Linked DNA regions of Homo sapiens: region 2 is linked to region 1. Evidence: fine-mapped expression QTL. Tissue or cell type: fibroblasts. Region 1 holds a variant in brackets; the other region holds the start of a gene. All regions are shown on one strand. Distances are from middle to middle.

The links. PIP is the estimated chance that this variant, and not a neighbour inherited with it, causes the effect.
Region 2: it holds the start of HERC5, and the variant in region 1 is fine-mapped to the expression of HERC5 in fibroblasts (GTEx, PIP above 0.99).

Annotation. Positions count from the first base shown.
Region 1 is chr4:87,707,496-87,713,077 of GRCh38, forward strand. The region is part of intron 2 of DMP1-AS1 (DMP1 and DSPP antisense RNA 1); the gene reads right to left. Among named protein-coding and RNA genes, the nearest start is that of DMP1-AS1, 22 kb to the right of the region's middle. RefSeq lists an enhancer at 3,168-3,770. The variant G/A (reference allele first, on the strand shown) is at 2,942.
Region 2 is chr4:88,453,819-88,459,400 of GRCh38, forward strand. It overlaps HERC5 (HECT and RLD domain containing E3 ubiquitin protein ligase 5), which reads left to right and starts at 3,301. Exons shown (of 23, transcript NM_016323.4): 1 at 3,301-3,716; 2 at 5,529-5,582. The coding sequence starts at 3,452. The region is part of intron 1 of LOC102723458 (a long non-coding RNA gene); the gene reads right to left. RefSeq lists an enhancer at 2,931-3,360.

The DNA.
Region 1 (5,582 bases):
GAGGCAGACTTCGCTAATCAATCACAATATTCTTCCTTGTTAGGCCTAGATTGGGTCTCAAACACAGGCTTCCGGGGGCCATTTCCTTGCTCAAATTGTACAAGAGACACAGATTTTTGACATTTTTGCCCTAGTTCATGAGATGGTGTCCTTATCATGCGTAGCTCTTGCTAAACTCTTTCCCCAGGGAGGCAGTATCTTGCTTCCTGTAATCTCCTGCTGCTGAGAAGGCCCCTGCTTGGAATCACAGTTCCACCACCTGCCTAAAGCAGTGCCTGCTGCCTGGGCTCCCCCATACCCTGGCCTGCTTGCTGGATCAGAGTCCCTGGTAGAAAGCCCCTCCTTGGTCAGATCTGAGACTCCTACCCCTTTTGACTACTGTCTTGGATTCCATGGTGGGGTAAGTCTCTTCATCTAGGGGCCTTTTCCCTGCGCCTGGCCTCCCTGTTCTGGCTTCCACTGTATTTCTAGTGACTGGGATTCCTGGGATCTAGACACATTTTGTTCCAAAGGACCCCTGCTACAATGCTCAAAAATCAGTCCCAGTTGTTTCATTTACAATACACATTTTTGTTAGGATTAAATGCTGTAATTCTTATGAGACAATTAACATGGTTCCTATCACATAATAAGCACTCAATTAATATTAGCTACTATAAGTTCTGTTATAATTTTCATCGTCATCATCATCATCATGATCATTTCTATCAGGATCTCCATCTTAATTTGAGAAAGGCTTTTTCTGCAATAATCAGGAACAGGACAAGTCCCAGAGACCATCTGGCTGCTAATGGACTGGAGACAACATACCTAACAAGTGTTCAAATTGGAGCCCATAGCAAACATTAATGATGGTCATCTTTTACTGAGAGCTCTGTGTCAAGAACTTCCCACATAGTATCTTAATTAACCCCCATAACAACCAAATTGTGTGGGAGTTATAACTCCCATTTTATTGATGAGAAAACGCAGGATTAGTGAATCCCATGCCTAACAAAAACGATAGTGAAACTGATATCAGATCCAGCCCTTTTTAAACACAAAACTCCATTCTTTTTCTCTTGAACATGTTACTTCTCTACAAACAGCCTGAATCCTGAAAGCAGAGCTTACTTTCTGGGCTTCCAGCTAATCAAGTCTGGTCTTATGGCCTGCGTGTTTCCTGCCTAGCCATATCATTAGGTAATTCCCGAAACTTTCCTCTTGTATCCTTACCTTTTGTTTTCTTTCTTCTCCTCTTCTAATCTGGCAGCCACACTCCTACTTCTATTTGTTCTTAGCCACTCTGGTTCCAATTTGCACCATCAGCCCTAAAGATCCAAACCAAGCTTAAATCCTCCATTTAGTCTGCTTAGACTATTATAGCCCACTTTCAAGTGATTTAACCCTCTCCTTCAAATTCCTTTTACTCTCTTGTTATCTGCATTTAGTGCCACACAATTATTATTCTTAGTTATTGCCTAATTATTTCAAATGTGCATTCATTCAACTACTACATGTTTAAATACATATTATAAATCAGAAACTGAGTTAAGCAACATATATGGAGATATATAGACAAGTATGCTATTACAAAACCCTTAAGGTAATATTAGTTGAGCAAATAAGAAATATAGACAAATAGTTATAGTAGTGTTTTGAGTTTAAAAAGTACCATGAGAAATAAAGACAGCTAAAAGAATTCAGACAAGGGAAGGCTTACTTCTACCACGAAGGGAATGAGGAAGAAATAATGATTCATTTAACTGAGGTAGAAGATTCTGATACCGAGAGAGAGAGCACTCTGGCAGGCACTGCCTGACACAGGCGTGGAGTCTGGTGAGGGCACTATCAAGGACTAATGAGCCACTGTCGTCTAACTGTGCTTTAGAGTGTCTGGAGGAGAACTGTGGGATAGTGTACATGGAGGAAGTCCTTAAATACCATGTAATGGTATCACTGGTTAAAAGAGGGGGTCACTGGAAATTTTTGAAATGATATAGTCAGAACTGTTGTTTTTGCCGGGTGCAGTGGCTCACACCTGTAATCCCAACATTTTGGGAGGCTGAAGTAGGTGGTTTGCTTGAGCCGAGTAGTTCGATACCAGCCTGGGCAACACAGCAAAACCCTGTCTCTACAAAAGATACAAAAATGAGCTGAGCATGGTGTTCATGCCTGTGGTCCCAGCTACTCGAGAGGCTGAGGTGCGAGGATCACCCGACGAGGCTGCAGTGAGCCATCATGGCGCTGCTGCACTCCAGCCTGGGCAACAAGTGAGACTTTGTCTCAAAACAGAACAAAACAAAATTGTTGTTTTGCATCCCTCCCCCTAATTAACAGAAAGTCTATTAAAGTTTAAAATCATGTTTTCATATTTCATTCACATTTCCTTAGAACTTGGCACAACTGTGGACACAAATAAATATTTAATAAATAACCAGTGACTGATAAGAAGCAGTTACATATTATAGCTCTTTTATATATTTGCTTATCAATTTTCATGTTCATTTTAATTCTAACTAAAAAGAAACTAGAATTTTTTAAATTAAAAAGTGTAGAGTCTAATTAGGTGGCATGATATTTAAGCAAAACAGCCCTTTGCCTCTGAATCAGTCCACTGACCTACAGATACCATTACAGGTGTTAACTTCAGCTTCAAAAATATTTGTTATAAGATGGTAAACTCCAGATAAAACATTCCTTAAAACATGACTTTAGTATTCATTATATTACCTCATTTTTTCTCCAGTATGGATTTTTAAAATTTGTTTGCAGAAATTTTTTTCCCCAAATCTTACCAAGTATCTGGAAAATCTTGTCTTAGCCTTTATCTTTGGTTTTAAAAGTGTGATTCAAATCATTTTACATACTCACTTTTAACGTTATGAAAAAGCTATCAGGGACAGGAGCCAAGATGGCCGAATAGGAACAGCTCCGGTCTACAGCTCCCAGCGTGAGCGAC[G/A]CAGAAGATGGTGATTTCTGCATTTCCATCTGAGGTACCGGGTTCATCTCACTAGGGAGTGCCAGATAGTGGGTGCAGGTCAGTGGGTGCGCGCACCGTGCGCGAGCCGAAGCAGGGCGAGGCATTGCCCCACTTGGGAAGCGCAAGGGGTCAGGGAGTTCCCTTTCCGAGTCAAAGAAAGGGGTGACGGACGCACCTGGAAAATCGGGTCACTCCCACCCGAATACTGCGCTTTTCCGACTGGCTTAAAAAATGGGGCACCACAAGATTATATCCCGCACCTGGCTCGGAGGGTCCTACGCCCACGGAGTCTCGCTGATTGCTAGCACAGCAGTTTGAGATCAAACTGCAAGGTGGCAGCGAGGCTGGGGGAGGGGCGCCCGCCATTGCCCAGGCTTGCTTAGGTAAACAAAGCAGCCAGGAAGCTCCAACTGGGTGGAGCCCACCACAGCTCAAGGAGGCCTGCCTGCCTCTGTAGGCTCCACCTCTGGGGGCAGGGCACACACAAACAAAAAGACAGCAGTAACCCCTGCAGACTTAAATGTCCCTGTCTGACAGCTTTGAAGAGAGCAGTGGTTCTCCCAGCACGCAGCTGGAGATCTGAGAATGGGCAGACTGCCTCCTCAAGTGGGTCCCTGACCCCTGACCCCCGAGCAGCCTAACTGGGAGGCACCCCCCAGCAGGGGCACACTGACACCTCACACAGCAGGGTATTCCAACAGACCTGCAGCTGAGGGTCCTGTCTGTTAGAAGGAAAACTAACAAACAGAAAGGACATCCACACCAAAAACCCATCTGTACATCACCATCATCAAAGACCAAAAGTAGATAAAACCACAAAGATGGGGAAAAAACAGAACAGAAAAACTGGAAACTCTAAAAAGCAGAGCACCTCTCCTCCTCCAAAGGAACGCAGTTCCTCAGCAGCAACGGAACAAAGCTGGATGGAGAATGACTTTGACGAGCTGAGAGAAGAAGGCTTCAGACGATCAAATTACTCTGTGCTACGGGAGGACATTCAAACCAAAGGCAAAGAAGTTGAAAACTTTGAAAAAAATTCAGAAGAATCTATAACTAGAATAACCAATACAGAGAAGTGCTTAAAGGAGCTGATGGAGCTGAAAACCAAGGCTCGAGAACTATGTGAAGAATGCAGAAGCCTCAGGAGCTGATGTGATCAACTGGAAGAAAGGGTATCAGTGATGGAAGATGAAATGAATGAAATGAAGTGAGAAGGGAAGTTTAGAGAAAAAAGAATAAAAAGAAATGAGCAAAGCCTCCAAGAAATATGGGACTATGTGAAAAGACCAAATCTACGTCTGATTGGTGTACCTGAAAGTGATGGGGAGAGTGGAACCAAGTTGGAAAACACTCTGCAGGATATTATCCAGGAGAACTTCCCCAATTTAGCAAGGCAGGCCAATGTTCAAATTCAGGAAATACAGAGAACGCCACAAAGATACTCCTCGAGAAGAGCAACTCCAAGACACATAATTGTCAGATTGACCAAAGTTGAAATGAAGGAAAAAATGTTAAGGGCAGCCAGAGAGAAAGGTCGGGTTATCCACAAAGGGAAGCCCATCAGACTAACAGCAGATCTCTTGACAGAAACACTATCAGCCAGAAGAGAGTGGGGACCAATAATCAACATTCTTAAAGAAAAGAATTTTCAACCCAGAATTTCATATCCAGCCAAACTAAGCTTCATAAGTGAAGGAGAAATAAAATCCTTTACAGACAAGCAAACGCTGAGAGATTTTTGTCACCACCAGGCCTGCCCTAAAAGAGCTCCTGAAGGAAGCGCTAAACATGGAAAGGAACAACAGGTACCAGCCGCTGCAAAATCATGCCAAAATGTGAAGACCATCAAGACTAGGAAGAAACTGCATCAACTAACAAGCAAAATAACCAGCTAACATCATAATGACAGGATCAAATTCACACATCACAATATTAACTTTAAATGTAAATGGACTAAATGCTCCAATTAAAAGACACAGACTGGCAAATTGGATAAAGAGTCAAGACCCATCAGTGTGCTGTATTCAGGAAACCCATCTCACATGCAGAGACACACACAGGCTCAAAATAAAAGGATGGAGGAAGATCTACCAGCAAATGAAAAACAAAAAAAGGCAGGGGTTGCAATCATAGTCTCTGATAAAACAGACTTTAAACCAACAAAGATCAAAAGAGACAAAGAAGGCCATTACATAATGGTAAAGGGATCAATTCAACAAGAAGAGTTAACTATCCTAAATATATATGCACCCAATACAGGAGCACCAAGATTCATAAAGCAAGTCCTGAGTGACCTACAAAGAGACTTAGACTCCCACACATTAATAATGGGAGACTTTAACACCCCAATGTCAACATTAGACAGATCAATGAGACAGAAAGTCAACAAGGATACCCAGGAATTGAACTCAGCTCTGCACCAAGTGGACCTAATAGACATCTACAGAACTCTCCACCCCAAATCAACAGAATATACATTTTTTTCAGCACCACACCACACCTATTCCAAAATTGACCACATACTTGGAAGTAAAGCTCTCCTCAACAAATGTAAAAGAACAGAAATTATAACAAACTATCTCTCAGACCACAGTGTAATCAAACTAGAACTCAGGATTAA
Region 2 (5,582 bases), 750 kb after region 1:
GATGAATGTGTTCATTCTTTTTTTTTTGAGTTCGATTGCACAGTGTGGTAAATATAATTAACAATACAGTATTGCACTTTTCAAAATACCGAAGAGATAAAATTTCAAATGTTTTCACCACAAAAATTGTTAAGTATTTGAGGTGATGGATGTGGGAACTAGCTTGATTTAATTATTCCACATTGTTATTCATAAATTATAAGATCACTTTGTTCCCCATAAATGTATACAATTATAAATTGCCAATTTACAATTTAAAAAAAGAGAATTAGTTGAAAAATGTTTGGATAAATAATAAAGTGATGAATCAAGAATAATTTTTTTTTAAGAGACGAGGTCTCACTATGTTGCCCAGGCTGGTCTTGAAATCCTGGGCTTAAGAAATTCTCCTGCCTTGCCTCCCAAGTGCTGGGATTACAGGTGTGAGCCAAGAATAATATTTTTAATAAAACAATGTTATGTAAAGCAACATTTCCTATATCCCTAACCTTGCTAGATATATATTTTATATTCAGGAATATCTCTAGAGTTTTTATTTTAGCAAAGTGCTGAATAATTTATTTGAAAAATCTGAATGTTAAGGGATTCATTAATTCATTGAATAATTACTTATAGTAGGTACTGTGTGGCAAGTACCATTCTAAAGGCACTAGCACTGGCAGGCCATCGACCAGCAGAACAATGCGGAGTTTGGCCAGGGCAGTCGGAGGACAGCCTGGGCCGCTGAGCGGCTCAACTCCAGGGGAAAACCAACTCCCTTCTGGCTCCCCCATCTGCTGAGAGCTACTTCCACTCAATAAAACCGTGCACTCATTCTCTAAGCCCACATGTGATACAATTCTTCTGGTACACCAAGGCAAGAACCTGGGATACAGAAAGTCTTCTGTCCTTGTGACAAGGTAGAGGGTCTAATTGAGCTGGTTAACACAAGTGCCTATAGACAGCAAAACTAAAAAAGCACACAGTAGCACAGCCCACTGGTGCTTCAGGAGCAGTAAACATCCACCCCTAGACACTGGCGTGGGGTTGGAGCCCCAAAACCTGCCTGTCTGTATGCTCCCCTAGAGGTGTGAGCAGTGGGGCACTGAAGAAGCGACCCACTCCCACTGCCGCATGCCCTACGAAGGGGACAAGGGAACCTTTCCCGTTTCATTGTTAGAGGTCAAAGCTTTTTCCATGGCACATGCCCAGTCTACATAACTTGCAGTTTTGGCTCTGTTATACCTACAGGGTAACTGGCCATTTTGTTATCAACAGAGTAGGGCCAGTTTGGGCTGGCTCTGAGGTTATAATATACGGCCAGCTGAGTTTTGACAGGGATGCCAAGGCAATTCCATGGGGATAGGCAAGCTGGAACGACTGGAAATCCATAAGGAAAAAAAAGAACCTTTATTCTTACCTCATACTGATGCAGGAATTTTTGCTCCTTAGCTCAGCTAAAATCCAGGTTCTTGTCTCATGACCAGGAACAATTAGGCATGTGAATACATTGCAAGGTGAAGAGTGGCATTTATTAAAAGCTCTTAGCAAAAAAACAAGGAGGGTCCTGCCAACAGGCTCCCAGCTCACAGACTGAATAACAGGCCAACACACACAAGCTGAAGACTTCTTGCTCATCCCTGCTGCATAAGGCTGAATTCCCTCTGGCTGCACCCCACTCTCCTGGTGCAGTGGGCCCCCAAGTCCCTTGTGGGCATGCCCAGACAAGACCCTGGGCAGGCTTCCTCAGCTGCACAAAAGCTTGTGAGGCAGGTCAGAGATTCTCCAGGGACCCTCCCTTATCTGCCTCCAGCATCTATCGATACTATAAAGAATAATTCATTTTAAATATAATGAAGACCAACAATTATAAAACTTCCAGAAGGTAACAAATGAGGAAATCTTATAATCTTGAATTTAGCAAAAATGTCTTAAGTAGGACAAAAAAGGTATGAACTATGTAAAAGAAAAAAATGGATAAATTACATCAAAATTGAAAACTTCAGTGCTTCAAAAGACACTTAAAATGAAGAGGCAAGCCACAGACAGGTAGAAAACATTTCAAAACGTATAGCTAATAAAGAACATGGTATGAAACATATAAAGAACTCAATAATATATAAAGAACTCTTAGATAAAAAGTCAAGCTAGCTAATAAATAAATGGTCAAAAGATTTGAATACACACTTCACAAAGAAGAGATCCTCCTGCCTTGGGCTAAAAAAGGGCTGGGGTTACAGGCAGGAGCCCAGGCCCAGCCTTGTCAGTTGATTTTCGGTGACCCTTCAGAGGGCAAAGGGGAAGTTTTCTCCTGTTCCCTACAACCGACAGGCCCATCAATTGGTGAATGGATAAATAAACTGTGGCTTACCCATATGATAGACTACCATTCAACAATAACACAAATGAATTACTAATTAAACACAATAGTATGAATCTCAAAGCATTGTGCTAAGTTAAAAAAGCCAGACATCACTTAGATATGGTTCCGTTTGTATGCATTCTAAAAAAGGCCTAAAGCACATCACTGTTGCCAGGCACCCGGGAATACGGGAATACGTAGCGGAGCGGGCACGAGGGGGGTGGGGGTGGGGGTAGGGGTGGGGGGGAGGGTAGCTGCCTGCATAGCTCTGCCCAGTTTTATGCCGGTTTCAGCCCGGCGCACAACGCATTTTTTTTTTTGATACATAGTCTCGCTCTGTCGCCCAGGCTGGAGTGCAGTGGCGCAATCTCGGCTCACTGCAAACTCCGCCTCCCGGGTTCCCGCCATTCTCCCACCTCAGCCTCCCGAGTAGCTGGGACTACAGGCGCCCGCCACCACGCCCAGCTAATTTTGTTTTTGTATTTTTAGTAGAGACGGGGTTTCACCGTGTTAGCCAGAATGGTCTCGATCTCCTGACGTCGTGATCCGCCCGCCTCGGCCCCCCAAAGTGCTGGGATTACAGGCGTGAATCACCGCGCCCGGCCGCGGCGCACAACGCTTAACAAACTTTGGCTTCCGTTATCCCTCCCTCTGGAAATGCGTGTGTCAGGGTGCCTCCTAGTGGAACTGCAGCGTTTCCTCGAAAGCCATTCCGTCCAGGAGTTAAGGTGGCCGCTGCCCGCCCGGGGACACTTTCTCAGTCCAGCCCATCGGCCTTTACCCCAGCCAACGACCTGTTGCCTTTGGCCGCCTGCCAAGTCACTCTCATTACAGTTTCCTTTTCCTTTTCGATTCCGCCCCCTAAAAACAACAACAAACATTATGTTTCGTTTTCCACTGGAGCTGCAGGCCCCGCCCCCAAACAGCACGTGGGGGGCGTGGCGTCCCGGCAGGGGCTCAGTAGCTGAGGCTGCGGTTCCCCGACGCCACGCAGCTGCGCGCAGCTGGTTCCCGCTCTGCAGCGCAACGCCTGAGGCAGTGGGCGCGCTCAGTCCCGGGACCAGGCGTTCTCTCCTCTCGCCTCTGGGCCTGGGACCCCGCAAAGCGGCGATGGAGCGGAGGTCGCGGAGGAAGTCGCGGCGCAACGGGCGCTCGACCGCGGGCAAGGCCGCCGCGACCCAGCCCGCGAAGTCTCCGGGCGCACAGCTCTGGCTCTTTCCCAGCGCCGCGGGCCTCCACCGCGCGCTGCTCCGGAGGGTGGAGGTGACGCGCCAACTCTGCTGCTCGCCGGGGCGCCTCGCGGTCTTGGAACGCGGCGGGGCGGGCGTCCAGGTTCACCAGCTGCTCGCCGGGAGCGGCGGCGCCCGGACGCCGAGTGAGTGGGGCTGGTGTGTGAGGGCTGTGAGGGCTGTGAGGGGTGAGGGCTGAGGGCTGTGAGGGGCGGGCAGCCGGGGGTCCGCGCCTGAGGGAGGAGAGCCCAGAAGGCCGCAGACGCGCGCCTGGCTCGGATAGTTTCGCCGACGGCGCACCTGAGCTGTCTTTTATCCCGGTCAGTGTCAGGCGCGGGGTGAGCGGGATACTGGCGACCAGCGGATCCTCCGCTCAGCAAAGTGGCCGGTGCGGGGCATGCGGGCACCGTCTTCATCCTTTTAGCCAGTCTGGCTTTCTCATAGGTTTCTGTTCAAGTTTGTACCCCCGTCCCCCGCCCGCCGCATCTCCCACTGTCTCGTTTTGAGAAAGTAGTCACTGCTCCAACTTTGGGAGTCGTTCTCAGTGATGGGATTTTACCTTGGCCTTCAGTTGCACTTCTCCCACATTCTCATCGAAGTGGGGGAAATAGTTGCCCGCGTTCTTTAAAATTTTGCCCATCTGTGGAGTGAAGAAATTGGTATCTTGCTGCGAGTTTATTTTGCGTTTAACTACTGGACGTTTGCGTTCCTTTTTCGGTAAATTGCCTGTTTATCTTTGCCTGGCTTTTAGAAATTTGAGTTGTTAAATCTTTTTCTTATTTGTATGGAAGAGGTATTTGAATATTGAATAAGAATAGCCTTTTGCACGTCGTACATGTAATATTTTTCTCACTTTGCCTTTTGTGCATGTTGTTTTTAGTGCATTTTTTGGGGGGTAGTCTGTCAATTTTTTTGTCTGTTAAGGCTTATGGGTTTTATGTTAGGCTGGAAAGCTATCCACACTCCCAGTGTTTTAAAAAATGTACTCATTTTTGTAGTAATTTTAAGGTTTTTTTTTTTAAGTTAAAATTTTTCGTACGCTTGGAATTTTCAGTACTGAGGTAGGAGGGGAGCTAGATTTATTTGCTTTTCCAAAGGCTTAGCCTATGTCCCAATACCATTTCTTAATACTTCCTTTTTTTCAACTGATTTGAAATGCTGAGACTCTTTAAAAGAAACCGTTAGTCTGCTGGACCATTTCTTATTACCAAACTGTTTTGGTTCCCCTAGCATTTGTAATATGGTTTGTGCTTTGAGATTTTTACACGAATAGATTCTATTTCATTAGCACTGAAGATGAAACAAGGTCCCAAAACTATCCTAGTTTAATTTTTGTGAACAAATTAAATAAGAGTACATTTTTACTAGTGGACAGTTTAATCTCTTAACTTCAGAAAGGGCCAAATGTGCACTAATGCCAATGAAAAATGTTTTCAACAGCATCCTCTTTAAAGATAGTCCCCCAAACATAATCCTTCCTTTTAAGAATATAGGCATTGGTTTCTATTGGTAACTGTCGGGAAGTGTTTATTACTGTTATTTGCTTTTTGGGAGAAAGGAATGTGTTTCAGAATACACTATTTGTTCTTGAAATGAGATTATGTTGTCTTAAAGTTATATTTTCTTATAGACCTTTTCATCTTTGTCATTTCAAATTTCGTTCGTCTTAATAAACAAGAACCTAAAAGCAGATATTTAATTGGATATTTTAAGGGTATGTTCCATTTACAACAAAGTATACATCAATATTTTTTCTAATTAAAAAAAATCTATGTCAAGACCGTTGTCTTTCCTGATTTGCTTTGCCTACCTGAATTTTCTTAAGAGAAGTTCATGGTAAGTCAAAGCTTGTCTAGTTGAAATTTTTCCCAGATGTTTTAAGTGTATTATAATGAAGTTAGTAATACAGTGGGTAATAATCAAAGTGACAATAGTTCCTGGTTGGATTTGCTCTGTAGAATGCATTAAATTAGGAAAAAACATGAAGATACATTCCGTGGACCAAGGAGCAG